7 linked regions of the Homo sapiens genome follow. The protein of the gene in region 2 purifies or fractionates together with the protein of the main gene of each other region. This does not show direct contact. Each region holds a gene or a part of one and is shown on either strand. Other genes may lie near its edges. The genes, in order: NPHP4, DAAM1, MME, ATP1A3, ARHGEF19, FNBP1L and FNBP1.

Region 1 (3,972 bases), on a different chromosome or scaffold from region 2:
CCTGCTGCCCATGGAGTCCTTCTGGCGTGGCTGCAGCTGTTGTGAAGTGCACAGGCGGTTATCCTGCAGGGCGTGCCCAGTGGGGCTGGTCTGGTGTTCGTTTCAGTTAGACCCAGGTTATGCACTTGGGGCAGGACCTCCACAGACATTTGCCGTGTCCTCTACGAACATCATACTGTGAGGGACACCGTGTTGCTTTGTCCTGTTACTGGCGATGTTACTGTTTTCATTCAGTTAAGATGACATCTGCCATGCTTTTTTCCTGTAATATCAGGAAATGTCTAGTAATTAGAAAGTCATGAGTAAGTATCTTGTTGGGAGATACTGAGGCCGTTCAAATACCCTATTCTTCATCAGACTTTGACGCACTAGGTGTCAGTGTGCACTGATGACCTGGCCCGAGTTGGTTGGTAGTGGGATGCTTGCCTGCCATGGATTTTCCAATTCCATCATTCCTTCTCTGTTGATTACTGGTATTTTAAGTAAGGTAGAGCTGTGCCTTCACCCCATTCACCTATTTACTTTTTATATCCTTATGAACAATGAATTTCTATTTTATTCATTTTGTTACTATCATTATTTATTTTGTTGCTCATATTCGTGCCCTGACTAACCAGGGCAGCCTCTTCAGGCCAGCTCCTGCGTCCTGTTGATTCACCCCTGTCCTCCTTTGAGTCTTTCCTTACTGCCCAGCACAGCAAGACGCCCCAGGCTCAGCTTGCATTTCAGGAGTGTCAGCTATTTAGCTCGGGTTCCTTTGGTTGGAGAATGATATTTAGAAACCAAGATTTGAGCGTTAGATGTACTCAGTACTACTGGGATGTCACTGCTGCTAAGTCCCTCTCAGCAGAGACCTAAGAGGTGTATGCCTGTGGGTGCAGATACATACATACACAATATGTGCATATCATGCATATATGATGTATAGATATGTGCGTGTATGTGCACAGACTACTGTTTCTAGTGTGCTGAAGACCATGAATTTGCAGCAGTTCTTCCAACACCAATTTAACATCACGGGTTTCTTCCTGTTTTTTTCCATGTTTGTAATTCTCATTTCTGCTCATGAGAAACCTAGCTCGCATTTGGCTTACTTATTTGCCTAATTTCCTCTGTATATAACCAATCTGCTGACCACACTGGCCAAATCCCTTTGGCTACAATACCACTGGCCATCTTTATGTACGTGTATATTTCAAAACATCAGTACCAACCAGGGCTAGACACTATCTGTCAGTGCAAGATTTCTGAAGGTGCATTTGTCTTTAGGTCCTTTGTGTCCTGTGATTTACATTTACTTAAAGAATTCTTCTCTGGATAATTACAGCACCAACTTGATAGAAGCTTAGATTTGTTTATTTTTAATACATTAACACTTCTATTTATTTTAGTTTTCAAAATTAAAAACAAGTAAGTCAAAAATCAAACTATAAAGCAAGATATATTTGGAAGGATCTTGTTTCCATTCTTGCCCTGCCCCACTCTCTCCTTCTCAGTGTGTGCAGGTGTGAAGTGTGTGCATGTGTGTGTGCATGCATGTGTGTGTGTGCGTGCATGTGTGGGTGGTGTGTGTGTATGTGCATCCATGTTTGTATTTGTGCATCTGTGTACATGTATGGATGCATGCATGCATGTGGGTGTGCATGTGTGTGTGTGTGTGTGTGCATGTGGGTGGATGTGTATGCATGTGGGTGGATATGTGTGCATGTATGTGTGCATTGTGTGCATGTGGGTGCGTGTGTGTGCATGTGTGGGCGGATATGTGTGCATTGTGCGTGTGTGCATGTGGGTGCATGCATGTGTGCATGTGTGGGTGCATGCATGTGGGCATGCATGTGTGTGCGTGTGGGGGCATGTGTGCATGTATGTGTGTGCATGTGTGTGTGTATGGGTGCGTGTGTGTGCATGTGTGGGTGGATGTGTGTGCATGTGTGTGTGCATTGTGTGTGTGTGCATGTGGGTGCATGCATGTGTGTACATGTGTGGGTGCATGCATGTGGGCGTGCATATGTGTGCGTGTGGGGGCATGTGTGCATGTATGTGTGTGCATGCGTGTGTGGGTGCGTGTGTGCATGTGTGGGTGGATGTGTGTGCATGTATGTGTGCATTGTGTGCGTGTGTGCATGTGGGTGCATGCATATGTGTACATGTGTGGGTGCATGCATGTGGGCGTGCATGTGTGTGTGTGGGGCATGCGTGCATGTATATGTGTACATGCATGTGTGTGCATTTGTGGCTGGATGCGTGTGTGCATGCATGGGTGCATGTTTGCATGTGTGTGCACGTGTGCCTGCATGCATGTGGGTGTGCATGTATGTGTATGTGTATGGGTGCATGTGTGGGTGCATGAGTGCATGCGTGTGTGTGGGTGCGTGTGTGTGAGTATGCATGTCTCTGTGGTTGTGTGTATCTTGAAACAAATATAGCCTTTTTATCAGTTGTCCCAATTAATACCTCTTCAGACAATATGGTTTTTAATGAGTAGCTCTTTTGAAACCAGGAAAGTTTCTATTTCTAACCCCTTTGGTTTAGGCACAGCCTCTTTTTGCCATCTGGAATCAAAGAGCTTGTGCTGACGTGCTTGACCGCGAACTTGGCCCTGCCACCACCCACTCCAGGACCTCCTGGCCTGACTTGCGCACATGCACACAGGGTGTCGGGAGGTGGGATCATGGCAGGAGTAGTTTTGACTTGGGACTGCAGACCTTCTCCACTGGCATTTAAGAAGTGTGCTGTACTCGCGAGGAATAATGGCAGTGTGGCTGCTTGGGTGCCCTGTGTGGGTGCCGGCCCAGACCTTGCTTAGCGGTCCCCTCCTGGTGGAGACCTGCTGCTGCAGACTCAGTCCCTGCCTTTGACGATGCCCGACCTTCCCCGCTCATGGCAGTGGAGGGTGAGGGGGTCTTGGCAACAGTGGAGATACGTGTGCTGTCTAAGGAGGGACAAGAAGCTGCTCACAAGCCTCGTGCCCATCCCAACACTCAGCGTGGCCTCCTCACAGGTCTTGTTCCGAGCGAGTGGTGGCAAGCCCATCGCCGTGCTCTGCCTGACTGTGGAGCTGCAGCCCCACGTGGTGGACCAGGTCTTCCGCTTCTATCACCCGGAGCTCTCCTTCCTGAAGAAGGCCATCCGCCTGCCGCCCTGGCACACATTTCCAGGCAGGTCCTGCACTGACCCTGCAGCCCACATGTTGCAGGCTCACCTGTTGGAAGTAGATACCTCTTGAGGGTGACAGATGGCCTCATGGCTTCATGCCCTGGTGCTGTCAGAGCAGCACGTGGGGCCTGGGGAATTCTCTCTCCTGCCTTTATGGTTTGAAACGGTGTCCCTCTTGCCACCTCTGAGATGACTAGGTGCGCATTTGCCGGCTGAGTCTGCCCTTCTAAAAAATCCCAGCTCCCGCGGCCCAGGTCCAGGTGTGCCTGGAGGAACACCTACCTCCTCACCTGACGGCCCGCGTGTTTCTGGTAGGTGCCCCTTACAGCAGAGTGCAGGCTTCCCTGCTCCAGGGAGCTGTGTTTTCTTTTTTGTGGCCCCCTCGATTATTCCCTGTGGAGATGGCTGCAGCCGAGCCGCAGTGGGCTGGATGGGCGGTGTCCATGCAGGGAACACAGTGCTTGGATGCTGTCCTGGGAAAGGTGGCGGCGTCCGTTTCCCCAGCAGGTGTCTTGCTGAGCACCTGTGACGAGCCTGTCCTGTCCTATAGTGTGTAATGTGTGGGGCCTTCTCCACACAGGCTGGGGCTGTGGAGAAGACTCTTTTTGACATTTCCCCTGCTCCAGGTGCTCCGGTGGGAATGCTTGGTGAGGACCCCCCAGTCCATGTTCGCTGCAGCGACCCGAACGTCATCTGTGAGACCCAGAATGTGGTAGGTTGTGTTGTGGCCCCAGCTCAGGCAGATCCTTCCCAGTGAGTCTGCGCCCCTGTCGGCTTCCCCACGGGTATCCTGGGATCCTCTTCATTTTAGGTTTT
Region 2 (3,972 bases):
GAGTTTGGACTTTAGACTTCATCTTCGCTATGAATTTCTGATGTTAGGAATTCAACCTGTAATAGATAAATTAAGGGAACACGAAAATTCAACATTAGATAGGTAAGTCAGACTATTATGATGTGAGAAAGTTTCTGTGTTTCCCATCTGTGTAATGCAATACCTCATCAAGTGCTGGCCTGTGGTTACTTGTGCCCTGTCTGTAACATAAAGAGCTTGTATCAGAATGTTAGTTCAGCTAATGATGTTTTCATAGTAAGACTTTGTTGATGAGGGAAGCAGCACATTATGTAGAGAACTTAATGTGGGTTTTAGCATTAGACCTGAATTCATATCCTATCCTAGTCCTGCCTCTTATTCCTGTGTATCCTGGTGAAGTTACTCAATTTTTCTGAATTTTGCTGTTTTTATAACTGCAAAAGATAGTGCTGGTGGTGATGATGATAATGACAGTGATTTTCCAGGAATGATGTAAAAATTGACTATAAAACCTATGGAATTACTTAGCCCCTTTGATAGGCATTCTGTGAATGTTAATTTCCACTACCTGTTCATTTCATCGTTTGCTATCATTTCACTGAGTCTAAGCTATCCCAACTTGCTTTCAGAGCTTTTCTCTACCACGGCTCTCCTCTCCTGTATATTCATATACTCCAACATGCTCTTCTTCTTGATATTCTGTGAACACTCTTGCATCAGTGCCTTTGCGCTTGCTGTTTCCTCAGCTTCAAAAGATCTTTCACAGATGTCCAAATTGTTGGTTCCCTAGTTCCCTGGAGAGAGACCTGTTCTAACCACTGTGTGTACATTATTCACCTCATCTGCCATCATTTTCTATTTCCTTTACCCTGATGTGTTTGTCTTCATAAAATGTATCCTGGGTGTGTAGAATACATAGTAGGAGCTCAATACATATGTGACTGAATAAATGAATGGCATGATCATTTCTTTTGTGATCTTTAATTCAGCTGGAAGTTAAGTGTAGGTATATGGGCATGTTTTTCCATAAAGGGAATCCATAGTGGAATCTGAACTTGATTGTTTTTAGATTTAGTTTTAATTTAATAATTGCCTACTGTATGCTAGGCATCGTAGACTTTTAAATTTTTCTCATATTGTGATCTGTTTCGCTCAGGTGATGTCTTTTTTTCTTAGAAAGAACAAAGTTGAAGCTTTCAAATTTTGTTACATTGTTCCTTTTTGAGATATCTCTGAAAAGTCAGGAAAAACCATGATATTAATGTCCTCAGTCTTATGCACCTGTGTTTATAGGATGTTCTACTTAATAACTTTTCTTTCATTATTTTTCAGGCATTTAGACTTTTTTGAAATGCTCCGAAATGAAGATGAACTAGAATTTGCCAAAAGATTTGAACTGGTACGTATGCTTACAATTATTCTGGTTTGATTCATCAGTTCACATTATTTCTGTCTGTAATGTGTGTTGTAGAGTCCACATGGACTTTAGGGCAACCTAAAAGCAAACTCAAAGCTCTATTTTGTTTCCTAAGTGGCAGGATTAGCTTCTGTTTGCTTTGAGTTTACTTTACACTGGGGAAACTGAGGAACTTAGATGTTTGATTTGATTTCTTTTTCCTGTGAAATAGGTTCACATAGACACAAAAAGTGCAACTCAGATGTTTGAGCTGACCAGGAAGAGGCTGACACATAGTGAAGCTTACCCGCATTTCATGTCCATCCTGCACCACTGCCTCCAAATGCCTTGTAAGTGTGTTCGTGACTCACATGTGTGCTTCTGAATGTTTGGACATTGTCCTAATGGGTTCTGGCTCCTGCACAGTGCTGATTACATTGGGTGCACACCAGGGATTCCAAGCCTTGGTTTTATGACAGCCAAGTATGTGTGTCTACATGGCTTAAAGGGTGTTACAAAATTTTTTAAATGAAACAAATTAAAATTTTGATTTTAAAAATAAAAAATATGCCTTACAACCTGTTCAGAAAGGGGTAGAGGGTACCTCTCAATCAAATAAATGATCATTGCATGTCAAAATTCCATAACTTTGGGAAGCATTGGTGCAGATGTTATAAACATCTCTGGTTTGGTGGCTTTAAAGGGTGACCACCATTGACAAATATTCATCCTAGCTTAGAAACAACTTGAAGATTTTTTTTCACTATTCTTTTCTTTTTTAGACAAGAGGAGTGGCAACACTGTTCAGTACTGGCTACTACTAGATAGAATTATACAGCAGATAGTTATCCAGAATGACAAAGGACAGGACCCTGACTCCACACCTTTGGAAAACTTTAATATTAAGAATGTCGTACGAATGTAAGTCTCTTCTTATTCTGCTGCTGTGAGATAATGGTGACAATGTAAGATATTTATTTTATCCTACTTCAGAGTAACAGCTGGGAGAGCTGAAATGTTCTAGGGGTCAAATATGAGTTACTGTACACATGCACTATAGCTAAGTAACATCTGGTCTTAAATGGGTTTCAAGCATGCACTGAGGATTTTCTCTGCAGTAGACTATTTTTGTACCTGGGGAGAATGCAGTTAGCAGTGGACCTTTTATATTTTTTGTAATAAATGCTCCTTGAACTCTTACACAGGTTGGTTAATGAAAATGAAGTTAAGCAGTGGAAAGAACAAGCGGAAAAAATGAGAAAAGGTAAATAATGAGGCCCTGATAAGAGGCTGTGTTATTGGTTATTGGGTGACCTTGATTTCCATATATTTTGGAAATTTACATTGATGTTTCTTGTTAGCTTGGTGCAGGCAGCCTTTCTTTTTCCATCTTTTAAGGGCATTTTGCACTGAGTTTCTTAAATTGAGCTATTTTAGTTGTCATACTGATTCTCAAATATTTTATCCTTTTATTATAATCATGTAAATGTTTTGAAAAGCTTATAGCATTTGCTGTTCAGTATTCCTTAAATCAAATTTTCTTAACTACTAATAATTCAAACCCTTCCCCTACTCCGTCATGGCTCTTTAAATCATACTGGGTTTTAAGAAATGTAATAAGGGACTTGAGGAATTATCCAAAATTTTAAAAGAGAAGAACAGGTCACTTGGTTTCTTTTTTTTTTTTTTTTTTTTTTTTGAGATGGAGTCTTGCTCTGTCACCCAGGCTGGAATCAGTGGCGCCATCTCGGCTCACTGCAAGTTCCACCTCCTAAGTTCACGTCATTCTCCTGCCTCAGCCTCCCGAGTAGCTGGGACTACCGGCGCCCGCCATCACATCCGGCTAATTTTTTGTATTTTTATTAGAGATGGGGTTTCACTATGTTAGTCAGGATGGTCTCAATCTCCTGACCTCGTGATCCACCCGCCTTGGCTGCCCAAAGTGCTGGGATTGCAGGCGTGAGCCACCGCGCCCGGCCTACTTGGTTTCAATAACCCAATTCTGTCCATGACCTTGATTTGGTACCAGTTATAAAAAGAGAAGTCATTCAGAAAATCAGTGACCATTGCTGAGATATGTGTTACGAAACATTAGCTGGCCAGCTATTAGTGTGTATTTGAATATGTCTTTGATATTATCTCTTAGTATCAAATGATAGGAGAGACATTTATGTCCATCAGTGTACCAGCCATACAGAGAAATGTATGTAATTTTCCTTCCTGTTTTAAAATATTAACAAATTGAAGTTGGCCTCTTTGTGGAAATAATCATACTGCCAGCTACCATGCTCTCACCATACTGGTTAACTGACTTCCTTTTCCTTGTCCAAGTTATTCACTCACAGCCAATGAAATACAATAGCATTCACCCCAATATTTAATGTGCTGAAAAGCAGGTCCCAGAGATGCCTAAGCATTTCCTTTTCTCTCATCACATTTCCACTGAGCAGAAAAGCAGGGCCATAACTGATATCAGAAAATACCAATTGTGAACTAACTACTGTTATGTTACGAGTTCCTCATATGTATTCAGATTGCTCCCAAATAAGTGACATTGCACATGCATTTTAAAAAATAAATTTCAGAAACTGCTACAA
Region 3 (3,972 bases), on a different chromosome or scaffold from region 2:
GTGTTCTTTACAAAGAATATTGACGAGTTGTGTAGTCTTGAACACGTTGCCTGACTTCTCTGTGCCCCAGTTTCCTAATTCTTTATTCTATTCTGTGGCAGTGTCCACTTTTTGGTTTAAAGTTTTTAACACATCTCCAGTTGAGGTGAAAGATTTTAGGAATACAGGTATGTTTTTGCATACCCTGCTTTATACAGGACTACAAGTATCAACTTGGTAACTTTTTGTACTATTTTGTTTACTTATCCCCCTTACTCCCCTCTTAAATGGGATTGGGCGTGGTTAGGTTGGATATTCAGGTATCTTTTGGTACAGTGAGTGACCATTTTCAGAATGTTGTCTAACCAGTTAATAGATACTGGTATCAGTAGTAGTAGTAATTTTGAACTGTAAAAATAAAGGTTGTTTTTATGACTAAAATAAACTACTTCATGTGTTCATTCGTTTTGCTGTTTATCTATATTAATATTTCAAATTATTGCTTAGTCAAAACCTCAAGGTATTAGTCACTGGTTTTTGAGCTTATAAAGGAAGCCACTGGAGCAAGATATAAAATTAACCATTGATGTTAGTCCAGAGTTCAAAAGGGTGAGTTTAAAACTTTCTTAATGATGGTACAGCAATTATTTGCTTATAAACTGCTGAATTAATCCTACTTGAGTATTTAACCAAGTCTTACTGTCTAATTTTGCTGAGATTTTCAGTGATATACCAAAGCAAAACAAAACAAAACAACAGCAACAAAAAACAAAAGGTTGTGACTGAGACCTGTCAAATTCATTTGGCTCTATATACTTTGCATTCAGCAACAAAATTTTGACTTCTCAACAGCAAAAATGTATTTCTATTTTAAAATAACTGAGCCTTTTACTTTTATCCAGCCACATTAAGCATTTGGACATTTTCTTTTTTATTTATTTGTTTTTCATTATTAGTATTTTCATTTTTTGCAGATTTTAGGTGATGGGCAAGTCAGAAAGTCAGATGGATATAACTGATATCAACACTCCAAAGCCAAAGAAGAAACAGCGATGGACTCCACTGGAGATCAGCCTCTCGGTCCTTGTCCTGCTCCTCACCATCATAGCTGTGACAATGATCGCACTCTATGCAACCTACGATGGTGAGTTACTCCCACACCTGTGCATCCATAAGTGCAAAAGAGAAGGAAATCTTCCTCCATGCTTTTACCATCTATCCAACGAATGTGTTAAGGATAGAGGCACTTAAAGACTGACAAAGAGATTCATTTATAAAATGTAACATCAATATGTCAAAATAATTAACTTTGAAGTACGGTGCCTTTTATGTTTGAGCTAAGTTATTAATTGCAAGTATATTTAGTGCGCTCACGCTTACTTATGAGGAATCTAAAGTATGGTTTTATTTGATTAAAATATACACAATTTTATGGCCAGCTTTAGTAATAGTCATTAGTCAACTTTTGTTGTGTCATTGAAATTCTAAACGGCTTCACAGGAATTTAACAAATTTAATTTGAGTCTTGGAAGTTTTTTACAACAAGGATGAAAAAAGATTGATTGTTTAATGGTTAAAAAAATGATTACCAAGCAAAAACAACTGATTATTTCAATTTAATAGGCCTGGGGCTTCGTTGGTAGAGAAGATATAATAACACATTTTTCTTCATAATCAAAATTTTAAATTTAGATTTTACTTATTTTATTTTCTTATATTTTTTCTAACCACTGACAATGATATATAATGTTCAGTTTTTAGTTCTTGCTTTAAGAAATTGCTTATTTAATTGGCAGTTTTTAAAAGAACAAAAGAAAAATAGAAATTTAAAAATTTGTGTTGCCAATATTTATGTATATTCTCTCCTTTTTCTAGATGGTATTTGCAAGTCATCAGACTGCATAAAATCAGGTAAGAAATGGTTTTTACGTGTAATAGTTATACAACTGATGTATAATATTTAAAATTAAATGCTAATCTTAATTTGCTTTGTTTACACTTTTATTCATTGTAGATCAATTATTTATGTGTCTGGCTCTATAATCAATGGAAATAAAAATATATTTAAGTAGTAGATTAATTAACTTGTTTACTCTGAAAAATATATTACTATTTTCAGCCCTGGGCTGTATAGCAGGGCAATAGAAAACTATATCGCTATTTGTATGGAGCTTGCCATGTAGTTGAAGAAAGAAAATGAACACATATGAAATGGTAAGTTTCGTATCATTGTGTTAAATGTCTCAGTGCACCTCACTAGGTGGGTGAGAAGAAGGGAGTGAGATGTAGGCATGTAAATCTAGGTGGAGAAGTTAAAATCTGGGAAGAAATTTCATTTTATTTATTTTTTTTATTTTTTATATTTTGAGACAGAGTCTCGCTCTGTCGCCCAAGCTGGAGTGCAGTGGCGTGATCTCGGCTGACTGCAATCTCCGCCTCCCGGGTTCTAGCAATTCTCCTGCCTCAGCCTCCCAAGTAGCTGGGACTACAGGTACCCACCACCACGCCTGGCTAATTCTGTATTTTTGGTAGAGACGGGGTTTCACCATATTGATCAGGCTGGTTTCGAACTCCTGCCCTCAGGTGATCTGCCCCCCTCGGCCTCACAAAGTGCTGGGATTACAGGCGTGAGCCACCGCACCCAGCCTTAAATTTGGGAAGAACCTTGAAGCAGGGCTAGAATTTAGATGTGGCGGTGCAGAAGAGGGAATTCCAAACACAAAAGAAAGAAACTATGTTATTGAGAAGTAGTAAAAGTGTACGCTTGATAGAAGGACACATTATGGAGAACCTTGAAATCCATGTTTAGCCTTGATATTGTAATACAGGAGAAACAGATATTTTTGAACAGAGGAGTGATCAGGCCAAAGGTGAAAGATGATTCTGCGAATGTGAGGTTGACTGGATTGAGTGAAAAGGAGGGCAGGCAGGTGGGGGCTGCTTCTGTACTCCAAGTGTAAGCTGAAGAGGTTGGCCTGTGGTGAGAGAAGAGTACTATTGAGATAATGGGGAGGGAGAATTGGGTGACTCAGTAGAACTGACTTGCTAAATAAAATGAATGAATTGAGAATGATGCCAAGTTTTAAAACCCAAGGGACTAAAGAGAATGGAGGCAGCCCACACAGAAATAGAGAGGTTATGAGGTGGATGTGGATGTGTTTGGTCTAAGATGAAAATAGACAGGAGGAAGGTAGAGATGAGGTTTAAGAAGCTGGAATTTGGATTTGAGATCTGTCAGTTTAGGAGTGATAGTGGAAGCCTTGGAAGTATTTGAGTTCTCAAAAGAAGAGAAGAGGTTCAAGGGCTAAACTTAAGAAGAGGTTCAAGGGCTAAACAACATCAATGATTAGAAGAGAAGAAAAATAAGTCAGAGCAGAAAACAGAGAAGTGTATGAAGCTATATAAATCCCATCAATTGGAGTGTGGTGAAAATGGGAGTATTTCTTCTTTCTTCAAGAAAAAGGAAGGTGGTAGCTGAGGGCAGCACCTGGGATATGAACACAATATTTGTGTCCTTTAACAAGAGATTCTAAACCTCCTTTCTAACATCTATGTGTCTTATAAGAAATAAATAAACTGTTCCAAATAATTTTAACCATTTTCTGCTGGATATTTTTAATTTTATTTATTTATTTATTTGAGGCAGGATCTTGCTCTGTCACCCAGGCTGGAGTGCAGTATTGTGATCACAGCTTACTGCAGCCTTGATCTCCTGGGCTCAAGGCATCCTCCTGCCTGAGCCTCCTGAGTAGCTGGGACTATAGGCACCTGCCACCATTCCTGGCTAGGTTGTGGGTTTTTTGTTTTTTTTGTTTTTTTTTGTTTTTTTTTTTTGTAGAGACAGGGTCTCACTATGTTGCCCAAGCTTGGTCTTGAACTCCTGAGATCAAGCAGTCCTCCTACTTGTCTTCCCAAAGTGCTGGGATTACAGGCATGAGCCACTGCACCCAGTCTTGGATATTCTTTACTTGGATTTTTGTTATTCACTGAACT
Region 4 (3,972 bases), on a different chromosome or scaffold from region 2:
CTGGAGTACAGGCATGCAATCTCGGCTTACTGTAGCCTCCACCTCCTGGGTTCAAGCAATTCTCCTGCTTCAGCCTCCCGAGTAGCTAGAATTACAGGTGCATGCCACCACACCAGGCTAATTTTTGTATTTTTAGTAGAGATGGGGTTTCACCATGTTAGCCAGGCTGGTCTTGATCTCCTGACCTGAAGTGATCCCCGCACCTTGGCCTCCCAAAGTGCTGGGATTGCAGGGGTGAGCCACCTCGCCCAGCGAGGTCTTCAACTCCTGGGCTCAAGCAATCCTCCCACCTTGGCCTCCCAATTTGCTGGGATTACAGGCATGAGCCACCACGCCTGGCCTCCCCAAGACATCTATGCATACACAGTACACACACTGTCTCAGATACAGCCGTCTGCTCCTTCCGAATCTTGTGCATCATGCTGGAAGCCTGGGAGGCAGCTGTGAGCAGAGCAGACACCATCCCTGTTCTCACAGGGCTGGAGAGACAGCCTTAAACAAGTTAACAGATATGTAATTACAAATTGTGATATATGCCCCGAAGAAAGCAGGCCGCTGTGATAGATAATAGTGAGGGTCCTGCCCAGATGGGGTGGACAGGGAAGGCCTCTCTGAAGTGAGGGAAGAAATACCTAACTTCCGTCAGGGGCCAGGCACGGGGGCTCACGCCTGTAATCCCAGCACTTTGGGAGACCAAGGCGGGAGGATCGCTTGAGCCCAGGAGTTCAAGACCTGCCTGTACAACAAATTAAGACCTCAAAGATCAAAAAATTTTAAAAATTAGCAGGGCGTGGTGTTGCACACCTGTAGTCTCAGAGACTTGGGGGGCTGAGGCAGGAGGATCACTTGAGCCTGGGTGGTCGAGGCTGCCATGAACCATGATGGTGCCACTGCACTCCAGCCTGGGATAGAGCGAGATCCGAGACCCTGTCTCAAACAAACAAACAAAATAACTTCCAACGGGGGCATTCCAGATATACCCAAAAGTAAAGCAAAGGCACAGTGGGCCCCTGCGCCTCCATCCCACCTGCAGCGGCAGTCAGCGCACGGCACACCTTGTTTCTTCCCCACCACCTGGAACACACACTGGATTATGCTGATGCACATTTGTCACCATTTCATCCATAAATAGTTTAGGATGAGAAACCCCTAGTTTGTGGAGAAGAGCACAATGCAGGGAACGAGAATATCAGGTGGGAGCGGCCCAGGCCCTTATTGCTATGCAAGAGACATCAAAGCAATCAAAGAAGCCACACCACAGGCAGCCTGCTTCACCTTCCCTTCCCTCCCTCCCTCCCTTCCTCCCTCCCTCCGTCCCTGCCTGCCTGCCTTCCTTCCTTCTTTCCTTCCTTCCTTCCTTCCTTCCTTCCTTCCTTCCTTCCTTCCTTCCTTCCTTCCCCTTCCTTCCTTCCTTCCCCCTCCCCTCCCCTCCCCTTTTTTTGATGGAGTCTTGCTCTGTTGCCAGGCTGGAGTGCAGTGGCGTGATGTTGGCTCACTGCAACCTCCACCTCCCAGCTTCAAGCGATTCTTCTGCCTCAGCTTCCCACATAGCTGGAACTACAGGCACACACCACCACTCCCAGCTAATTTTTTGTGTTTTAGTAGAGATGGGGTTTCACCATGTTGGCCAGGATAGTCTCGATCTCCTGACCTCGTGATCCACCCGCCTCAGCCTCCCAAAGTGCTGGGATTACAGGTGTTTGCCACCGTGCCCGCCTGTTCTTTCTTAATGATTGACCTCATTGTTCATGGGCTAATCTTTTTACTTATTTATTTATTTAGAGACAAGGTCTCACTCTGTTGCCCAGGCTGGAGCGCAGTGCTGCAATCATCAGTCACTGCAACCTCGACCTCCTCAAGTGATCCTCCCACCTCAGCCTCCCAAGTAGCTGCGACCACAGGCTCGAGCCACCGTGCCTGACTAATGTTTATTTTATTTTATTTTATTTTTTTGAGATGGAGTCTTGCTCTGTTGCCCAGGCTGGAGTGCAATGGCACAATTGCGGCTCACTGCAACGTCTGCCTCTGAGGTTCAAATGATTCTCCTGCCTCAGCCTCCCAAGTAGCTGGGGTTACAGGTGCCCACCACCACGCCCAGCTAATTTTTGTATTTTTAGTAGAGATGGGGTTTCATCATGTTGGCCAGGCTGGTCTTGAACTCTTGATCTCAGGCAATCCTCCTGCTTCGGTCTCCCAAAGTGTTGGGATTACAGGTGTGAGCCCCAGCGCCTGGCCTGGATTAATCTTTATTTTGTTTACTTTAGACAACCTGTACTGGTTGAATATTTATTGAGATATGGCATGCATACAGTGAGTTGGGCATATTATATCTCATTAAAATATTCAACCAGACAGGGTGTATAAATTTTTACACATGTACACAGCCATGCAACCACCAGACCCCAGTCAAGATAGAAAACCATTCCAGCCCCCCATTTAGGTTTTGTCTGCTCTCTTCCAGTCTATATCCCTCCTCCTAGACATAACCATTATCCTGACTTTTAGCCCAGAGACGGGTGCTGAGCCTGCTCCAGTTGGAGTTGGATGCTAAGAATGCTTTTGTGTCTGGCTCGTGTCACTCAGCACGGGATCCAAGGTCCAGCTGTGGAGTTGTGTCCGTAGCTCGCCCCTTCTTGCTGTGTAGTATTTGACTGCATGGATGTACCGTGGTTTATTCATCCCTCACCTGTTGATGGACATGGGGTTGACTCTGGCTTTTGGCTCTGATGAGTGGTGCTATGGTGAACATTCTCGTACTTGCTTTTCGCTGGGCATAAACAGTCCTCCTCTCTTTTGGGTATAAAACCTAGGAGTCGGATTACTCGGTCGGTGGGGTGGGGGATGTTTGATAGCAACTCCGAAACCATCTTCCAAAGTGGTTATTTCAAGAATGTTTCCACAAAGGCGATGTGGTTGGATGTTTATGTGGAAAGGTAGGTGGGTGAGGGGCCAGGTGTGGAGACTTATGCCTGTAATCCCAGCACTTCGGGAGGCTGAGATGGAATCACAGCCCAGAAATTAGACAAGCCTAGGAAAAGTGGTGAGACTCTGTCTCTACTAAAAATACAAAAATTAGCTGGACGTGGTGGCGCGTGACTGTAGTCTCAGCTACATGGGAGGCTGAGGCAGGAGGATCACTTGAGCCTGGGAGTCGAGGTTGCAGTGAGCCGTGATCATGCCACTGCACTGCAGCCTGGGCAACAGAGTGAGACCCTGTCCCAAAAAGAAAATAATGGTGGGTGGGCTGGGGGGTAGAAAAGGACGCTGGACAGGCCGGGCGCGGTGGCTCACGCCTGTAATCCCAGCACTTCAGGAGGCCGAGGAGGGCAGATCACGAGGTCAGGAGATTGAGACCATGCAGGCTAACACAGTGAAACCCCGTCTCTAATAAAAATACAAAAAAATTAGCCGGGCGTGGTGGCAGGTGCCTGTAGTGCCAGCTACTCGGGAGGCTGAGGCAGGAGAATGGCGTGAACCCGGGAGGCGGAGCCTGCAGTGAGCCGAGATCGCACCACTGCACTCCAGCCTGGGCAACACAGCGAGACTCTGTCTCAAAAAAAAAAAAAAAAAAAAAAAGGACGTTGGATGAGGGCAGAGGAGGGGCAGAGGGAGTGGGGCTCCCTGGCATGGGCGCCTGCTCTGAGCCTGCCTGTGCCACAGGCCGCCTGATCTTCGACAACCTAAAGAAGTCCATTGCCTACACCCTGACCAGCAATATCCCGGAGATCACGCCCTTCCTGCTGTTCATCATGGCCAACATCCCGCTGCCCCTGGGCACCATCACCATCCTCTGCATCGATCTGGGCACTGACATGGTGAGCCCTGGCAGCCACCCTTGGGGCCCAGGAGGGTGGAGTCCTCCCCTCTCCGGCTCACCCGGCCTCCTCCGCCTAGGTCCCTGCCATCTCACTGGCGTACGAGGCTGCCGAAAGCGACATCATGAAGAGACAGCCCAGGAACCCGCGGACGGAC
Region 5 (4,572 bases), on a different chromosome or scaffold from region 2:
ACATCCACACTACATTTTCTCCCAAGTATAGAATGACATGTACACTTTCATAGATACAGACATTTCAAACTCAGGCTCACACAGTCACAGACACACACATTTTTACACAACCGCATACATTCACAGACAACTCCTCACAAACACGCTGACCCGTCCGATATTTACACAGGCACCCAAGATTTCTCACCCTCCTGTTCCCTTCACATGCACACAGACACACACCAGCCCACAGGTCCTTGCTCTGATGTTTCTCCCCCCATCTCCCCGACCCTTGCCCAGAGTTGCGGCCTTCAGTGCTGAGTGGTGCCCACACCCATGCCAAGTTGGCTGGGAGGGTCATGGACTGGCAGGCGGGCCACCACCCAGATCAGGCAGGGGCCTTCTCGAAGTTCAAAGAGGTGCCCCAGCACCCCCGGCTTGGAGTGAAAGAGGGGCTGTCCCCCACCCCAGCTTCCAGCCCCTGGGTGGGCCAGGCTGGATGGGTCCTTTCTGGGCAGGAAGTTATCCCTGGGGAGCCAGCCCTCCGATCGGGGCAGGCCTGATGATCTGAGAGGCCCAAGCCCCCACAGCTCTTGCCCTGTGGCCCTCTGCCAGCCTCCCTCCTGCAGCCCCTCACCTCTCTGGGCCCAGGCCCGCTGCTGATGCTGTTTGGCTGTTCCGGCAGGGGAAGCCCTCTCTCTGCCCAGCTGGCTGGGGGAGATCCCACCCAGACAAAGAGTTTGATTCATCAAACCCTGTGGTGAGGCAAGCAGGGAGGGAGGGAGGGAGCAGGCAGCGGGCTGGGCGGGGGCCTACCCTAGCCTGGCCTCGCTGTGGGCAGGCCGGGCAGCCAGGACCCCCCAGAGGCCCCCTCAGGCCAAAGGGGCAGTGCCCAGCCTGGCAGGACCAGGAGAGCCAGGAAATGAAGACTGAGAGAGACCCAGAGAAACAGAGACCACTTAGCCAGTAACTGAGAAACCAAGACCCCAAGACGTTCAAAAACAGAAAAACCACAGATGCTGAGACATTCAGGGACCCAGAGATGGAGACAGAGACACTGACAATTTCAGGCCAACCAGATCCTCAGAGACACAGATGAAGCCCAGAAAACCCAGGGAGACAGATGGACAAACATTTCATGCCCGTGGGCTGCCAGTCTAGTGGGAGAGCCAAAAATGAAAACAGTTACAATCCAGGTTGGCAAGAGCCAAGCCAGAGGAACCATCAGAGGAGGGTGCTCGGCTCAACTCAACCTGGGTATTCCAGGAAGACTTCCTGGAGGAGGTGATAGTTAACTGCTCCACGGCTGAAATACATAGTGCACTTAGAGGGAAAGCCTTGGCCTGAACAGTGACAGTGTCAGTCACTATTGGAGACAGGGAGGGAGAAGAGGACCCAGCGAGAGATGGCTGGGTCTATGGCAGGCCCCAGTCTCTCTGCACAGCTTCTCAACTGCTTCCCCCTGCTCCCTTCACCCTGCTGTCTGGGAGGGTGGGAAGAAGGGGACTGGCTGCTCCAAAGGGGTCCTCTCTACGGTGGCCACTCTGGCTTGTACCATCAGCCTCTGTCCCTCTAGCCTGAAAAGTACCCATCTGAGCGAGTCTCCCTAAGCCTCGGTCTCCTCATCCGGCAAATAGGATAGTATTTTTATTATCATCAGTCTTTCTCTAGACAGAAGGCAGCTCAGGCCTTCACACAGATGGGGAAGATGAAGGAGTGAGGCTGAGACACACATTATATCGCAGGAGTGTGCACAAGGAGGCCCCTGCCCACAGACGGGTCTCTTTCTCTGCAGGAATCAGAAGTCCTCGACACAGAAGTCCCACTTGCTTCTGGGGGCACACATGTGCAGGCATGTACACATGCCCCCTGCCCCTTTGTATGCTGGGAGATTCTAGCACTTGGGTTCTGGAAGCTCCTGGAGGGCAGGGAGGGACCCTCTCTCCCATGGCTCACAGGGATAAGTAGGCAAAACATTGAGGCTTTGCAGCAGGAGCACCCCCAGTTAAGGCTGCAGAGGAGAAGGCTAGGTGAATGTGGGGAGAGGGGACATAGAAGGCTTCCCGGGGAGATGAAGCTGGAGGCAGGTCCCTAGCAGGGAAGAAGTCAGGAGTGTGTCAGCCTCCACCTATGCTCAAGCCAAGGGGTAATAAGAATGACCCATCTAGCTGGGATGCCAGCCCTGTGGCCCTCCAGGGGTTTGGCCCACCCAACCTCAATGCTGGGGAGCTAAGAGGGACAAGCTGTGTTCATATTGTGTGTAGCTCATCTCTGTTAGAAAAAAACAAACAAAAACCTCAGAAAGAGAACTGGCCCCAGACAGCAGGGACATTACCTTCCCAAGGCACGATCACAGGATAGAGACTCTTGTGTCTACTAGGCAAGGGCCACTCTGGAGCCCAAAAAGAATAACCTCCGCCCAAGCTTTGAGGCCCAGTGTTGACACTGACCAGCTGTGTGGCCTTAGGCAATTCACAGCCCATCCCTTGGCCTCAGTATTCCCATCTGTAAAGTGGCTCCTAAGGGACCGCACCACCGCCCAATGCCCTCTCTAAGAAACATGTCTCATCATAAATGTCTCTGGGCCAAGAAGGATGGGCAGGGGCCGAGGAAAGTACCCTTGGTGGGTGCTGCTAATTACAGAAGACGATGGGCCCACTTAGCAAGGCTGCCAGAGAGTCCCTGGACACTACCATGATCAGAAAAAGTGTTTCTGGCCTCCTGTACCTAGCTTTTCCCTGCCCCCTCCCGGGTGCCCCTTGCCTTGCTGCCCAGGAGAGCTGGTACCCTGCCAGAGCCTCTCTGCCCTTTAAGGAATAAAGCCAGGTGGGAAGTCATGGCTGGAAAGTGGATCCAGGCCAAGTGGTTCACAGAGCCCCAGAAGGCCATAGTGGGTCAGAGCCAGGATCAGAGACCAGGCGGGCAGCACAAAGGGCTCACTCAGCGGGGAAAACTGGCGGGAAGAGAATGGGACTGCTGGCACCCAGGTGGGGCCCTACCTCAGCCAGGGAGCTCCGTCCAGCTGCCAGCACGGTCCAGGGCTCCGGGACACCCTGGGGGCTCTGGGGTTGCAGCCAAGTCCTCAGGGGGCGATGTCAGCATGTCAGCATGGCCCCAGAGCCGAGCAAGGCAAGCTCCTGGGTATTGTGTGGGGCAGGGAGGGGGAGGTGAAGGAGGAGGGAACCTTGCAGAGAGAGGCAGGCGGCTGTCTCAACGTGCCTGCTCCCCGCCCCCCTTCCCCAGAACCGGTTTGGCTAGTCTGGGGTACAAGAGGGGGGCTGGAACAATGGGAGTCCTATGCCCAAGTGAGGCTCTGAAGGACCCTACACCCAGGTCCTAAAGACGGGGGAGGCAGTGCTTCTGCTCCTAGGAGACAGGTCACCACTCTTCTGGAGCTTCCCAAACATGAGCATGCTCAGGGGACTTCTTGGAGCTGGGGAGCATCCTGGGAGCTTCACAGAGAGCCTCCCAAGCCCTGCACTCCTTAGGGACCCTGAGAACCCTGATGACCCTCTCTGATCCTATTACTACATCTATCAAATTGGAACACTCATCCCTATGATTGGGAGACAGAAATCAGTCCTGAAAGTTGATGATGTGACATGTGGCATCATCCTGGACAGCCTCTCCTCATCTAGTACAGCCACTGCTTGCAAATCCCCATCCTTTCCCACGGCCTGGAATGACCTGCCCCACCATCTCCAGTGGCCGCCTCCACCATGAAGCCTTCCCAGACTATACCAATTGAGCCCTCAATAAACCAAGCCAAATAGCCAAGTCAAACTGCCTCCAATAAGAAGGGCATGCTCTATGCCCGGCATGCAATCTTCCCAACCCTGTGGAATGGGAAGCTGCATTTTCCCCTAATTCTACCTGCCATCTGTTTGAGCTACCAGCAATTGCCAGGCACCTAATATTAATATGCAGATGTGTACACAGACTAATAGTCATGAAGCTAACTTATTGTTCACCTACTAGGTGCCAGGCACTGTCCTGAGCACTTCACATGTATTTACTCATTTAATCTCCACCATGACCCTGTCAGGTAGATACTGCTACCACTTATCAGGTGAGTACAGTTGTCCCTTGGTACCCAGAATCTGTGGGGAATTGGTTCTAGAACCCTCCCATACGAAAATCCATGGCTGCTCCAGTCCCTTATACAAAATGTCATAGTGTTTGCTATAACCTTTGTACATCCTCCAGTAAATTTTATTTTATTTTATTTTATTTATTTATTTATTTATTTATTTATTTATTTATTTATTTATTTTTAAGATGGAGTCTTGCTCTGTCACCCAGGCTGGAGCAAGTGGTGGGATCTCAGCTCACCGCAACCTTTGCCTCCCAGGTTCAAGCAATTCTTCTGCCTCAGCCTCCCCAGTAGCTGGGATTACAGGCGCATGCCACCACACCCTACTAATTTTTTTTGTTTCTAGTCAAGACAGGGTTTCACCATGTTGGCCAGGCTGGTTTTTGAACTCCTGACCTTAAGTGATCCACCCGCCTCAACCTCCCGAAGTGCTGGGATTATAGACGTGAGCCACCGCACCCAGTCTATTTTATGTATTTATTGTCAAAAAATAAAATAAA
Region 6 (3,972 bases), on a different chromosome or scaffold from region 2:
AATCCACAGACGTGGAAATCAAATGATATGGAGGGCCTACAGTATACAGTCACAGATAAAGGGAAAATAAAAAACAATATAAACGAGCTGTAGTAATAATATATATTTAAAAATAAAACTAATTTCAAATTAGTAACATATTATTAAAGGAAATAACATCCTTCAAATATTCTTGCAGCGGCGCTAAAATAAATACACTTTCATCTTCTAAAACCCAGAGGTATTCCCCTCCTGCCACCAAAGTATTCAGAAGCAAGAGGTAATCCCTTCTACCAATAAACTAAGATTTTCTTCTGTGAATTTTTAAATGGTCTGAAAAGTGGTTTGATTATATACAAATGTGTAACTACACACACACACACACACACAGACACACCCATACACACACACAAGAGGTTCATGAATCAAGCAATCAGCCAGACCAACCTCTTTGCCTGCCTGGTTCCAGTCTACCCTTCATCACTACTTTCAGACATTGTGCACTCAAATTCAAGTCAAACGCAACACTAGACTCAGGTCAGTCCAACAAACATTTATTAAAGACCCTACTAATGTCAGGCTAATCCAGGCAGGATACAGCAATGAATCAGACAATGAATAAGCAATGAGTAAGACACAATATCTGCCCTCTAGGAACCTGTCAGGAACCCCCACCTGCATAACCCTTCTTATTCCAAAACCTAGGTCAAATGACAGTCTTCCTAAAGATTTTCCTGTGATACCTAGAATGAAAAGTCACTTTTCATAGCCCTAAAGTCCATCTATTACTTTCTAGTTGTTTTAGGGTTGCTTTGAGGCTCATGCTGATATCTAATTGATTCTTTTAGTATGCCCCACAAAGCCTAGCTTAGTGCTGAAGCCATAATAGGCATGAAATAAACATCTGTTGAATGAACAAGCATCAGTCCTGTTTACGTGTTTCAGGTGTATTAGATAGACATGGCCTGAACTGAAATATGGAACGGCTTTCACATTCTATAGAACAAAACCTTTACATAACCTTTCCTACCAGTTTTTAATATTCTATAGATATATTCCCCAAGACAGATTTTTTTTTGCTATTGAAGTGAAAATGTTTAAAGATTGAAGATTATTAAATAAGACAGCACTTGTTGATATACACAGAAGGTATTTGACATTTATAAGCCATTACTATTTCTCTTACTATTTCCTCTCTACAAACTAGCTGACAGAGGAAAAAGTTGGTAGAATAGGTTTTTTTAAAGTTTCCAGCCAAAATCATATTTTATAGGTTTATAGGGTGGGGGAAGGAGAGAGAGCAAATATTTTAAGAAAAAGGCAAAGAAAGCAAGCAAATGGAAGTAAATGGAGTATGAGTGGCTATGCAAAGGAGATACTGGTTAGAGGCAGCTCTCTAGCTTCCAACTTATTATAGTCATTATGGAATGGTGACATAAACAGATATCTTGATACCTCTCACTCATCCTCCTTAACTAATAGCAATAACGTCTGTAATACAATGTTGAACACAACAATTTCTACCAACAAAAGGGAATGTAAGATATTTAAGTATTTATACCATGACAATTTCCCTAAGATTTGAATACACAAGAAATAACTATAATAACCGTAATATAAGGTGGTAGTCCCATAAGACAATATCCAGAATGGGTAGTCTGGAGGCATGGGGTTGATAGGAATTGGTCAACAGAGGGCATTCTGGGCAGTGGTATCAATGTAGGGAAGTATTTTGGAGTTTACAGTAAAGTTATATCATCTCAAAGCAACTCTACCTTTTGTCAGGGCAGGGCCAATATCATAAGCCTTCATAAATCTCACCAAACATAACAGTGCTTCCCAAATAATAGACACAAAATTATTGTATTTTTAAAACAAAACTGAATTCCTACAGCAGTTTCACGGCCTTTCATTTACTTTTGGAGAAGCAATTCAGTTTACATTAATAATGAATTTTCTTTGTCAACCTCCTCTAGACAAGCACCCTCCAAAAAATGTGAAGTAAAATTAAAGTCAATATTATAGACAGTCCCAGCTTCTTGAGAGCTTAAGGAAGGACGATTGTGGAGCACAGAGTTCAAGACTGGCCTGAGAATATAGCAAGACCCCATCTCTAAAAATATACATATATATTACAGATATGGTCTAACCAGTAGACTATGAGACCCAATTCCTTTGTTACAGATAAATCTATTAATGTGGCCTAAGATTTCACCAATTATTTAGGCAGTCACATTACCAAGCTATCAATCAAGTAAATTCACCAGAAATTACCTGTAGGTCTTTTCTTCCCCATCCTTTTACCATTTTACTTGACAAAAATGTTTAACCCAAGTAGTAAAACTTAACTTTATAATTTTGGTTTCAGCTTTAGACTTTCTTGAGCTGTTATCCAGATCACCTAACCTATCACCATCTACAAAGGCCTTCAGAACCCTAAAGATACACTTGCTAATTAGTAATCAATACTCTGGGTAATGCAATCAACTATTAATGCAATTGGGCAAAACATGCATGATCACCTACAAGCATTGTCTTGGTCAGTGAAAACAAAGATGAATCCAGCCTTTCTACACTCAAGGACAATCTAGTCACTTACAATGTAAATTTAAGTGCTATATAAAGTGTTATGAAGCCAAGATAATAAAGTATTAAAAGGTTAACACTGAGGATAATACATAAATTATCCACCTAATCTATCACTCAACCCACATTTTTCAGTTTCTTCCAAAAAGATATAAGCTTTGTCAAATGCATTTAGTTAATAATATGATGAAGACCGGGCACGGTGGCTCACGCCTGTAAACCCAGCACTTTGAGAGGCCGAGGCGGGCGGATCACAATGTCAGGAGTTCAAGACCAGCCTGGCCAACGTGGTGAAAACCTGTTTCTACTAAAAATACAAAAATTAGTCGGGCATGGTGGTGTGCACCTGAAATCCCAGCTACTCGGGGGGCTGAGGTGGGAGAATGGCTTGAACCAGGGAGGCTGAGGTTGCAGTGACCCGAGATCGCACCACTGCACTCCAGGCTAGGCAACAGAAGAGACTCCATCTCAAAAATAATAATAATATAAATAATATGATGAAAATAACAATGGCTTTTAAATTACACATTCTTAAACTAAGGGCCAAAGATTATATCGACCAAGAAATTAAGGCATAAAAAAGATTTATATGCACTTATAAATTAAATCAGATATTTGAATCCATCTTCTAACTACCAGACTTGTCCAGCATTTTCCTTGGGTAGCAAATTTTTCAGTAAATCATATGAATGTGAGGTGCTCAGCCATATATTTTTTTCATATTTATACACACATTCACAACCCATACACAGATTTTTTCTGTCGAACTTTAACTAGGTCCTCAAAAACTAAAAACCTATTTCTTAATAAGTAAAACTTATTTACTAAACATAGGTCTTTTCCAATCTCTAATGTCCCTATCTGTTAAAAAAAAGCTAGTAATTTCAAAATCTGTGCTTTGTGAAATTATTAATTCATATTTGGCTATCTGATCCATCCATTCTTGCTATGTAATAAAGAAATGAACACAATAAGCAATGCCTAAGATGTTACCACGCATCCTGAAGAAGTGAAGACAGTATCATCTCTTTCCTTGGTATTACCCAGAATACAATGCAAAACTGTGACTGTAGTATATATTCACTAACTTATTTACTCATTTGGAACACTAGAAATCCCTGTAAGCACAGCTCAAATTTATTACAAGTTAATTCATATCCCCTAACAACTACGCAACCAAAGTCTGACACGATCCACTCAGCACATCACTACAAAAGTCCCCCAAAGTCAGTATTAGAGCCGTTCTATTGAATTCCTTTTTTTCTCAAATTTAACATAAGACTTAAGAAGCATTAAAATAGCAATAAAAATTCCAATGATTGTTACAAGAAACAGACTCAGGTTTAAGTGCATGGCTACATATCATTTTTCTGTAACAACATATTCTCAATAATTAACTCTTTGGGA
Region 7 (3,972 bases), on a different chromosome or scaffold from region 2:
CACAGCTTGACAGAATGCCTTTTTTCAAAGCAGACTTTCACAAGGTTAATGTCGTCTTGCCCTATTTTCGAGTTTTTCAGTGGTTAGTTTGCTTTGTCCAGGAGTTCACAGACTGGAAATGAGTTTGTCATCGGATAGAAAGGTCAGATTTTAATACCTTAGGTTTCCCATTCACTTGTTTACTGGGTAAAGCTGGAAACTTCCTACTGCTCATTTAAACAGATCCTTGTGGTTGAAGGGTCAGCTGATTTTCTTGCTGCAATATCTACAAAGAGGCCTGGGGTCGGGATGGGTGGCTTTATTGATACTATGCCAGCAAAAGTATCCAAAAGAAATTTGGGCCTGGCACGGTGGCTCACCCTGTAATCCCAGCACTTTGGGAGGCTGAGGCGGGCGGATCACTTGAGCCCAAGAGTTTGAGACAAGCCTGGCCAACATGGTGAAAACCTGTCTTTACTAAAAAAAAAAAAAAATACAAAGATTAGCCGGGTGTGGTGGCAGGCACCTGTAATCCCAGCTACTGGGGAGGCTGAGGCACAAGAATTACTTGAACTCGGGAGGCAGAGGTTGTAGTGAGCCAGGATTGTATCATTGCCCTTGAGTCTAGGTGACAGAGTGAGACTCTGTCTCAAAAAAAAAAAAAAAAAAAAAAAAAGCCAGGCACGGGCTCATGCCTGTAATCCCAACACTTTGGGAGGCTGAGGTGGACAGATCATGAGGTCAGGAGATCAAGACCATTCTGGCTAACACGGTGAAACCCTGTCTCTACTAAAAATACAAAAAATTAGCTGGGCATGGTGGCACACGCCTGTAGTCCCAGCTACTTGGGAGGCTGAAGCAGGAGAATCGCTTGAACTCAGGAGGCAGAGGTTGCAGTGAGCCAAGATTGTGCCACCGCACTCCATCCTGGCGACAGAGCGAGACTCCATCTCAAAAAAAAAAAAAAAAAAAGTTTTTTAAAAAATCAGGCTGTCACTAAATAAAGGTTAACTGGCTGTGAGAATCTTGAAACACGGCCCCTAGCATCCAGAACCCCTACTAGGTTCTAGAGCCCGAATGTGCAGCTACTGCTTGGAAAATCAGCTTTAAATGGACTTGAGCTGATCAAATGAACCCACAATGTAGAGGCAGGCAGGGGCTAATTTCCTACTTGAAAGTAGGAAGGACACAAGGAAATAATTTTCAAAATCAAATAAAAAGAGAATCTGACCCAACACCTTCATTCTGACCCATTTGTAGTGGGTTGTCTATGATCTCGGGGTGGATTCTGGAAATGGGCACAGTGAAATGCCTGGCAACCATCTACGCATGTGACCAACTTCACTATCTCCCCTCCCACATCAATGCCAATTTAAAAATGCAAATTCTCATGTGGCCTAGATTCCTTTCGATGTGGTGAGACATTTTACTTCATTCTGGCTACAGTTAATTGTATAAAATGAGCCAGAAATTCTAAAATAATTTCCAGTAAATCCAAACCTTGCCAATGATTAAAAGCAGAAACAAAACAAAACAAAAACAACAACAACAAAAAAACAAAAGCAAACCCCCAAAGTCTTTGAACAGCAATGTGCTGAGATCTGTGTCTGTGGGGAGAAGCATTTGCTGCCACACCACGTTCTCTTTATAGCCCCACCTGGGCAAGCGTGAGTGCAGCTCTACTTGGAAAACCAACAGAAACCGAACCAAGTGTGAGAGGAAATCACAGCCAAAAGGAGCTGATGCAGGGACACGCTCTGCCTTTTAAGTAACTCCATCTAAACAGCACTAGCACATCTGATCAACTGTCAATTTGGGCCAGGTGCGGTGGCTCACGCCTATAATCCCAGCACTTTGGGAGGCAGAAGCAGGCAGATCACTTGAGGTCAGGAGTTTGAGACCAGCCTGGCCAACAGAGCGAACCCGTCTCTACTAAAAATACAAAAATTAGCCAGGCGTGGTGGTGCACACCTGTAATCCCAGCTACTCGGGAGGCTGAGGCAGGAGAATCGCTTGAACCTGGGGGAGGCGGAGGTTGCAGTGAGCCACTGTACTCCAGCCTGGGCAACAGAGCCAGACTCTGTCTCAAAACAACAACAACAACAAAAACACAAACACAACAACAAAAACCTGTCAATTTGATGACACTTGGAAAATCAGCAATGCAATGTAAAAATCAAGTGGTCAATTCACCAAACTTTTCCAGATTTCAGCTGGTTGTCTGGGATCATGTAGATGGAACAGGGTACTCGTGATGCCCTACCAAGGATGCTGACCAGGTTTAAGTAAAAACACACACTTTTGGTGCCAATATAAGAATCTTATTTACTGCTTTAGTCAAGAAGGAGATGTTATTTCACTTGTGACTTCCTCCCAAGTGAATGAGTATACAATTTAACAAACTAACACAGTTCAGTTTATTAAGTTACAATCTGTAACCACCTAATGTAGCTCAGTGTATGGTGGATACTAGATATAAACAAGAGTAGGGAAGTCTTTGGCACCTGCATGATGCGTGCCGGCTTTTAAATTCAGAAAGATGAGAAGCTACAATGCAACTTTTTTTTTAATCTACAGATACCGCCAAAAGAAGAAATGTTTATCAGATTTTGAATGACATAGCTGTAAGTTGGCGGTTGGCAGCTTTCCACATAAAATTTCATCAGCAAGTGAAACTTGATTACAGCCCAAACTAGACAAGGCAATTCAGGTGCCCAGACCCTGAAGTCCACGTGAGACTACAGGAGAACGTGCATTATGGTGCTTGCCAGCCAGTCTCTTGAGGAACTGCCTGTAACAGTCATGGTTGTGGGGAGAAACAACTCCATTTTTTTTAAGTTTTTTTTTTTTATGGTATTAAATATAAGTCTTAGCACCTTTGGCATTTTTGTCCAAACAGACTTCGACATATGAAGTGGGGACATAACCCTCTTCATCTTCATTTCTCCGAATGCGGGTCCAGCCATCGCCTTTGTCTTCCTCTATGACATACAATGTTTCTCCTTCAACTACGGAAATCGTTCCTTCATTCTGACCTGAAAAAGCAATATCAGGATATGTTAGATGTCTTGGCAAATGCAGGGAGGAAGCAAACAGTGGCCTTCGCAATGAAACAAGTGTCGTCGAAGATGAAGTCCACACAAAATTCACCCCACTCGGACCTTCTCAGATGCACGGACCCCTCACCCACTGCCTCAAAACCATCTCCTTCTGCACAGAAATGTCCAGGTTCTTACCTCTGTCTCTCTAGGGACCCTCTCTAAGTCCTCCAGGGCCCTCTTTCTCCTCCCTCCCAGAATGGTAAGTATTTCTCACTGGATAAATCTTTGGTTCTCTTCTCTAGTCTTCTTCTGTCTCACTTGGATCTCTCTCAGGAGAAAGGTACCCTCGTGGCTCCAACTGCTTCTCTTTTGTCTGTTATTTTTTGGGGGGGTTGTGGGGGATGGAGTCTTGCTCTTGTTGCCCAGGCCAGAGTGCTGTGGTGCAATCTCAACTCACTGCAACCTCCACCTCCCCGGTTCAAGCGATTCTCCTGTCTCAGCCTCCCGAGCAGCTGAGACTATAGGTGTGCACCACCACACCCGGCTAACCTTTCTATTTTTAGTAGAGATGGGGTTTCACCATGTTGGTCAGGCTGGTCTGACTCCTGACCTTAGGTGATCCACCAGCCTCAGCCTCCCAATTTTTTTGTTGTTGTTGTTTGTTTGTTTTGAGACAGAGTCTTGCTCTGTTGCCCAGGCTGGAGTGTGATGCCACTTGTCCCGGGTTCAAGTGATTCTCCTGCCTCGGCCTCCCGAGTAGCTGAGATTACAGGCATGTGCCACCACGCCCGGCTAATTTTGTATTTTTAGTAGAGACGAGGTTTCACCATGTTGGTCAGGCTGGTCTTGAACTCCTGACCTCAGGTGATCCACCCGCCTCGGCCTCCCAAAGCGCTGGGATTACAGGCGTGAGCCACCACGCCCGGCCCAACTGCTCCTCTTTAAACACTGT

What was found.
Region 1: the proteins of DAAM1 (region 2) and NPHP4 purify together in Homo sapiens (co-immunoprecipitation; one study listed by IntAct). This does not show direct contact.
Region 3: the proteins of DAAM1 (region 2) and MME purify together in Homo sapiens (co-immunoprecipitation; one study listed by IntAct). This does not show direct contact.
Region 4: the proteins of DAAM1 (region 2) and ATP1A3 purify together in Homo sapiens (co-immunoprecipitation; one large-scale study listed by IntAct). This does not show direct contact.
Region 5: the proteins of DAAM1 (region 2) and ARHGEF19 purify together in Homo sapiens (co-immunoprecipitation; one study listed by IntAct). This does not show direct contact.
Region 6: the proteins of DAAM1 (region 2) and FNBP1L purify together in Homo sapiens (co-immunoprecipitation; one study listed by IntAct). This does not show direct contact.
Region 7: the proteins of DAAM1 (region 2) and FNBP1 purify together in Homo sapiens (pull-down; one study listed by IntAct). This does not show direct contact.

The regions. Positions count from the first base shown.
Region 1 is NC_000001.11:5,866,926-5,870,897, reverse strand, and holds part of NPHP4 (nephrocystin-4), read left to right. Parts: intron 1-3,001; coding exon 3,002-3,158; intron 3,159-3,782; coding exon 3,783-3,868; intron 3,869-3,972. UniProt on the Homo sapiens protein: Involved in the organization of apical junctions; the function is proposed to implicate a NPHP1-4-8 module. Does not seem to be strictly required for ciliogenesis. Required for building functional cilia.
Region 2 is NC_000014.9:59,324,353-59,328,324, forward strand, and holds part of DAAM1 (disheveled-associated activator of morphogenesis 1), read left to right. Parts: coding exon 1-102; intron 103-1,311; coding exon 1,312-1,378; intron 1,379-1,607; coding exon 1,608-1,725; intron 1,726-2,157; coding exon 2,158-2,296; intron 2,297-2,580; coding exon 2,581-2,639; intron 2,640-3,972. UniProt on the Homo sapiens protein: Binds to disheveled (Dvl) and Rho, and mediates Wnt-induced Dvl-Rho complex formation. May play a role as a scaffolding protein to recruit Rho-GDP and Rho-GEF, thereby enhancing Rho-GTP formation. Can direct nucleation and elongation of new actin filaments.
Region 3 is NC_000003.12:155,083,205-155,087,176, forward strand, and holds part of MME (neprilysin), read left to right. Parts: exon of another isoform or gene 1-838; intron 839-953; 5' UTR 954-963; coding exon 964-1,123; intron 1,124-1,854; coding exon 1,855-1,890; intron 1,891-3,972. UniProt on the Homo sapiens protein: Thermolysin-like specificity, but is almost confined on acting on polypeptides of up to 30 amino acids. Biologically important in the destruction of opioid peptides such as Met- and Leu-enkephalins by cleavage of a Gly-Phe bond.
Region 4 is NC_000019.10:41,970,231-41,974,202, reverse strand, and holds part of ATP1A3 (sodium/potassium-transporting ATPase subunit alpha-3), read left to right. Parts: intron 1-3,660; coding exon 3,661-3,815; intron 3,816-3,894; coding exon 3,895-3,972. UniProt on the Homo sapiens protein: This is the catalytic component of the active enzyme, which catalyzes the hydrolysis of ATP coupled with the exchange of sodium and potassium ions across the plasma membrane.
Region 5 is NC_000001.11:16,209,524-16,214,095, forward strand, and holds the start of ARHGEF19 (rho guanine nucleotide exchange factor 19), read right to left. Parts: upstream 3,130-4,572; 5' UTR 2,979-3,129; intron 691-2,978; exon of another isoform or gene 617-690; intron 1-616. UniProt on the Homo sapiens protein: Acts as a guanine nucleotide exchange factor (GEF) for RhoA GTPase.
Region 6 is NC_000001.11:93,450,734-93,454,705, reverse strand, and holds part of FNBP1L (formin-binding protein 1-like), read right to left. Parts: intron 1-3,972. UniProt on the Homo sapiens protein: Required to coordinate membrane tubulation with reorganization of the actin cytoskeleton during endocytosis. May bind to lipids such as phosphatidylinositol 4,5-bisphosphate and phosphatidylserine and promote membrane invagination and the formation of tubules.
Region 7 is NC_000009.12:129,892,983-129,896,954, forward strand, and holds part of FNBP1 (formin-binding protein 1), read right to left. Parts: intron 3,015-3,972; coding exon 2,856-3,014; coding exon of another isoform or gene 2,836-2,855; exon of another isoform or gene 2,279-2,835; intron 1-2,278. UniProt on the Homo sapiens protein: May act as a link between RND2 signaling and regulation of the actin cytoskeleton. Required to coordinate membrane tubulation with reorganization of the actin cytoskeleton during the late stage of clathrin-mediated endocytosis.